Regions from separate parts of the Homo sapiens genome. Here region 1 is linked to region 2. Evidence: fine-mapped expression QTL. Tissue or cell type: liver. Region 2 holds a variant in brackets; the other region holds the start of a gene. All regions are shown on one strand. Distances are between the middles of the regions.

Region 1 (2,691 bases), 190 kb before region 2:
GTTTTAAGTGGCTCACTTCTCAAGTAAGTAAACCCAAGAAAGTAGTTGCTTAACGTGTAGAATAGCAAGTTGGTGGCCAGGTGCAGTGGCTCACACCTGTAATCCCAGCACTTTGGGAGGCCGAGCTGGATGGGTCACCTGAGGTCGGAAGTTTGAGACCAGCCTGACCAACATGAAGGAACCCTGTCTCTACTAAAAATACAAAATTAGCCAGGTGTGGTGACGCATCCCTGTAATCTCAGCTACTCAGGAGGCTGAGGCAGGATAATTGCTTGAACCTGGGAGGCGGAGGTTGCAGTGAGCCGAGATTGCACCATTGCACCCCAGCCTGGGGAACAAGAGCGAAACTCCATCTCAAACAAACAAACAAACAAAAAGAATGGCAAAGTTGGCACAATAACTTTCTACCCATCTTCAAAAGCCGGCAGGGTGGATTGATTCTATGAAGGTAGGGATTGAGAGGGTGAGCTGAGCCATTCTGATCTGTTTCTTCTGAGTGGCAAGCCTGGAAATCTGGACCCCATTTTGTGGCCACTGGGCACAGAGGGCTGACCTGGAATAATTATGCTCTGGTGGTTGTCTCCACAAGGGGCTCTGGGGGTGCCCCAGGATTGTTGCCCTCAGGCAGAGGCAGGGCATACATTGAGAGTGATCCCAAACACTCCTCCTCCAGGCCCAACTTTTGGAGGTAGCAAGTTCTGCAAATAGAGATCCATTGTTTGGTTTCTCTCTCTAAAAAAAAACAAAAGTCAGCACAAAGAAGAGGAACACATCAGATTGGTTTACCAGATTTGTTTCAGATGTTATTATTTTGACACGATCCAGAAGAAGGAGAATTTGAAGAAAATGGAAAGCTAGGCAGTGGGAATGTTGGCAGCAGGTAAGGGAAAGGCAGGCAGCAAAGAGAAACTTCATCTACTTTATAAACTGCTCCTTCCTTTCAGCAAATTTAGAGGATAAATGACTGTTTTGTTCAGATTGGAGATTCAAGGGGGGGATTATTACTTTTAAGATTATTGCAACATGGCTTCGATTATTTTAGCTGCAATCATCCTGTTGGACTTGGACTTCACTGTTGGTGAAGAGAGACTGTGTTTGACTTTGCCTGGATACCATAAAACCACAACAAAATAAATTCTCCTGAATGCTACCAGGCAACACCAAGATCTCTTACACCACGAGAAGGACTTGTGGCCAAAGATACAAATGGCTCCGCAATGTACAGGGTGCATACAGTGCACCTGAAGAACCTAAAAGTGGTTTTTAGAATCATCATAATAAACAGTCAAGAATTAAAGATGTCAAGCGCTTTCTCAAGAAGTCTAAACTTTATACATAACATTAAAAAAGATCTATAAAGCCTGACCAGTCTCCCTCAAATTAAGTTATTTGCTACTGACTTGGCAGCCAAAACGATTTAGGATCTTTCGGAAGTTGATGAAAAAGGAGCCAGCGGGTTTTGCTCTTTGCTCTGCATCACGCCCTTCCTGGGACCATCAGGGAACCTCCCAGCCTTTCAGGATAGGTTCCGCTCAGAAAGGTCACCCGGGCAGTGGAAACCGTGGGCAAAAGTTAGCTGGCAGGACAGCGCAGCTCCTCCAGGCAGCGGAGGCAGCGCGTCCCGGCTCTCAGGGACATTTCCTTCCCACCTCGACCCCCGGGAGGTGGTCCCGGTATAAAGGCTCGCTGAGCGGGTGGGTCACAGCACAGCTTTGCAGCTGCGGAGAAACGCCCAAGGCCGTGCATCTCCAGGAGGTAGGGAAGCCTGCGAGCCTCCGGGTCCCCGCCCCCAGCTCTTCCAGGCACCGGCGCATCCCGGAGCCGGGCGCGGGGCGCGGGGCACGGAGCCGGGGAGGGGGTGTGGCGGGCCAGGGCGGTGCAGGGACCCTGCCCAGAGGCTGAACCGGCCTGGGCGACCTTCCTTCCCGACAGGAGCAGTAGATGCGTGGGGGAGGGCGAAGGGGGAGGCCTCACCCCCCAGCGAGCAGCCGGGAGGAGGAACCGGTCGCGGAGGGCGGGGAGCGCGGCTGAGCAGCCCGGCGCGGGAGTGAGTGTGGGCGAGCCAGCCAGGGTGAGCGCGGGCGCCGGGCCGCGGCCGCCGGCCGCAGCGGGCTGAGATTGTTGTCCTCTGTCACCAGGGCGGCTGGGCTCCCGCAGTCCTGCAGACCGCGCCCGATCCCGGCGACAGGGCGGGCGGACAGCCGCGCATCCCCGGGGTCCCGCCGAGCCTGGGCGCAGAGAGCCGGGAGGAAGCGTTCGCTCGCTTCGCCTTGCTGCTGGGAAACTGAACGAGGCCGAGAGAGAAGGTAAAAGGAAAGACAGAGACTGGGAGACAGGGAGAGACAGAGACAGGGAGAGGAGAGAGAGGTGCAAGACGAACACATTGCAGACAAATTGTCAGCAAGTTTGTGCCTGCACGCTGGGGCTCTGCGTGCTTGATGGGAGGGGGTGGTGGCAGTGATGTGTGTACGTGTGCGATACTCATAGATAAGGAGACTAGGAGGTTGGGGAGCCTCTTTGCATCTCGTACGTAGATGTCCCTATTAATATCCCCCTCTCTGAGTTGTCATTTCCGCTTGTGGCACATCTCCTGGGCTCCAATGGTGCAGAAGCAAAAGGCAGCCAGCCTCTTATTGTGATGGTCGGTACTGTTGCTACTATCAGATGGGAGAGGTAGGGCGTTGAACAGAT
Region 2 (2,691 bases):
AATATGTAAGATTACATGATCTTCAACAGGGGGGTTTTGATCGAAGAGTACAAACATTAAGTTCTAAGATGAAAAAGTTCTGGTGGTGACTGCAGTTAATATTACCTATTGTATACTTGAAACTTGCTACGAGAGTGGACCTTAAGTGTTCTCACAAAAAAACAAAAGGAGAAATATGTGAGATGACAGGCTAATTAGCCTGATGTGGAGAATCATTTCACAGTCACGTAGTACACCTTAAATATGTACAATGTTTATTTGTCAATCATACCTTACCAAAAAAATTATACAAACTTCAACAAGTAGCATATGATTTACGTGTTTTTTTTTTTCATGAAAATATAGGTTGAAAAGATGCTAAGCAATTTTGGGGACTGTGTCCAGTACAAAGAAATAGTCAAAAATTCTCTCGAAGAATTAATTTCTGGCTCTAAAGAAGTCCAGGAACAAGCTGAGAAGATCTTGGATACTGAAAATCTGTTTGAAGCACAGCAGTTACTTCTTCATCACCAGGTAAAAATGCCTCTTTCTTCCAACAAGATTATGTAAAGTTGATTTGCTACTGAAAGAACCAGAGAGATAAAGAATACAACCACTGGCTTGAGAGAGTGGGTGAGGGGGCATGGGAAGGAAGAGTTGAATGGCTAAAAGAATTTGGCGCTTCTGGGTTTTGCTTTCTCTGTTAAATATTAAACATTTCAGGATATTCTGCAACATAAATTTCCAGACCGAGTGACTTGATGACATCAAAAAGTTCAAGGAATACTGTGGAGAGAAAATTGATTTAGCTATGAAAAACTGCACAAAACGTGCTAGATTCTCCTTTTCAAAACAGATGGAAAGGCATAGATGGACCAATTGCTTCCTATTTGAGATCACTGTTCTTTTGTCATTATATTAAAATCTTTCTCTTCAACTTACAACGCTGAACACACTTTAGTTTGAGAAATGATGACTTACTTGAAGTACTAGACCTTCCTGGAGTGTACACTCTTATAAAGATTAGAACTAGAAATAAAGAAATTCTGGTATATATACTGATAAGAAGCTATTTTAATCAACTTAATTTCTGATAGTCTGGTAGTGCACATTACAAATGTTTGCATAAAAGGAATATATACCTTGTTAAACGCAATATAAATGGAAATTTGATTCAAATAAAATATTTTAATGAAAAATTCTAGCTAACCTGATACACAGTAGCAAAATGGTAGCTAATTTATATAATATGTTTGTGTGTGTATTATATACATATATATTCTGTAATATATAAAAACGGAAGTTGCATTAAAAGTATGTTTAAAATCCCAGCCTTCAGGATTTCTAGATTTACTTAATAATTATAAAAAGGCTGAGTATAGGCCGGGC[A/G]CGGTGGCTCACGCCTGTAATCCCAGCACTTTGGGAGGCCGAGGCGGGCGCATCACGAGGTCAGCAGATCGAGACCATCCTGGCTAACGTGGTGAAACCCCGTCTCTACTAAATATACAAAAAATTAGCCGAGCGTGGTGGTGGGCGCCTGTGGTCCCAGCTACTCAGGAGGCTGAGGCAGGAGAATGGCATGAACCCGGGAGACGGAGCTTGCAATGAGCCGAGATTGCCCCACTGCACTCCAGCCTGGGCGACAGAGCAAGACTCTGTCTAAAAAATGGCTGAGTATAAAAAATTAATATTTGGTGTTACATTGTTCTCAATCATTGTGAAATGGTTTTTTGGGTTTCCATTTACTTTAGGTCCAATAAATTTAAGATTATAGATATTTATGTTAATATTTTAAAATGCTTAGGCCAGGTACTTTTTATATGGGTGCATTTACTTTGTGAAAATTTATAAGCTGCATATCTGAGATTTATGTACTATTCTATTTGAAGATTATACTTCAATAAAAAGTTTACTTTAAGACAATTTCCCCCCACAAAATCTCAGCAAATTAACCATTCCGAATATACTTAGGAAATAAATATTTATTCATTTATTTTTGGAGACAGTGTCTCACTCTGCCACACAGGCTGGAGTGTAGTGGCACAATCATAGTTCACTGCAGCCTCGAACTCCTGGGTTCAAGTGACCCTCCCACCTCAGCCTTCCGAGTAGCTGGGACCACAGGCATGTACCACCACACTTGGCTAATTTTTTAATATTTTTGTAGAAACAGGGTCTTGCTATGTTGCCCAGACTGTTCCAAGCTTTTGGCCCCAAACAGTCCTCTAGCTTTGGCCTCCCAAAATGCTAGGATTACAGGTGTGAGCCACTGCACCGCCCCTGGCCATAAATCTCTTAATATTTGCATTTTAATAAAATAAATAATTTTTAAAAATTGGAGTTGGGACTTTGTGTTTTTAAGCAGAAAATAATTATTTAAGAAGAATCATGTCAGATGAATTGTTTTGCCAGACTCTTCCTAGAGTATTGCACAAAATGCTAAATATTCTCCAAATTTGCACACAAAACACGAAAGCCAAATTATTTATGTTGTTTACCATTAAAAACATACAATATTTATAAATAATGTTCATCTTTGACTAATATAGCAACCGACTACCATTTCAACTGTTAATCTTAGCTTTAAAATACATTTCGGGCCCACCTTTCTGTACTTCTGTTAAGCGTGGGTGTTGATGTCCCTACTTAGCTGTTTAGAGAGCACAATTTATATCCATCTGTTGAATAAATGCTTCTAGCAAAAGACAAAGC

What was found. PIP is the estimated chance that this variant, and not a neighbour inherited with it, causes the effect.
Region 1: SYNE1 starts here. The variant in region 2 is fine-mapped to the expression of SYNE1 in liver (GTEx, PIP 0.92).

Annotation. Positions count from the first base shown.
Region 1 is chr6:152,636,253-152,638,943 of GRCh38, reverse strand. It overlaps SYNE1 (spectrin repeat containing nuclear envelope protein 1), which reads left to right and starts at 1,582. Exons shown (of 146, transcript NM_182961.4): 1 at 1,582-1,755; 2 at 2,139-2,306.
Region 2 is chr6:152,442,233-152,444,923 of GRCh38, reverse strand. SYNE1 (spectrin repeat containing nuclear envelope protein 1) reads left to right here. Exons shown (of 146, transcript NM_182961.4): 30 at 346-513; 31 at 2,679-2,691. Among named protein-coding and RNA genes, the nearest start is that of SYNE1-AS2, 41 kb to the right of the region's middle. The variant A/G (reference allele first, on the strand shown) is at 1,369.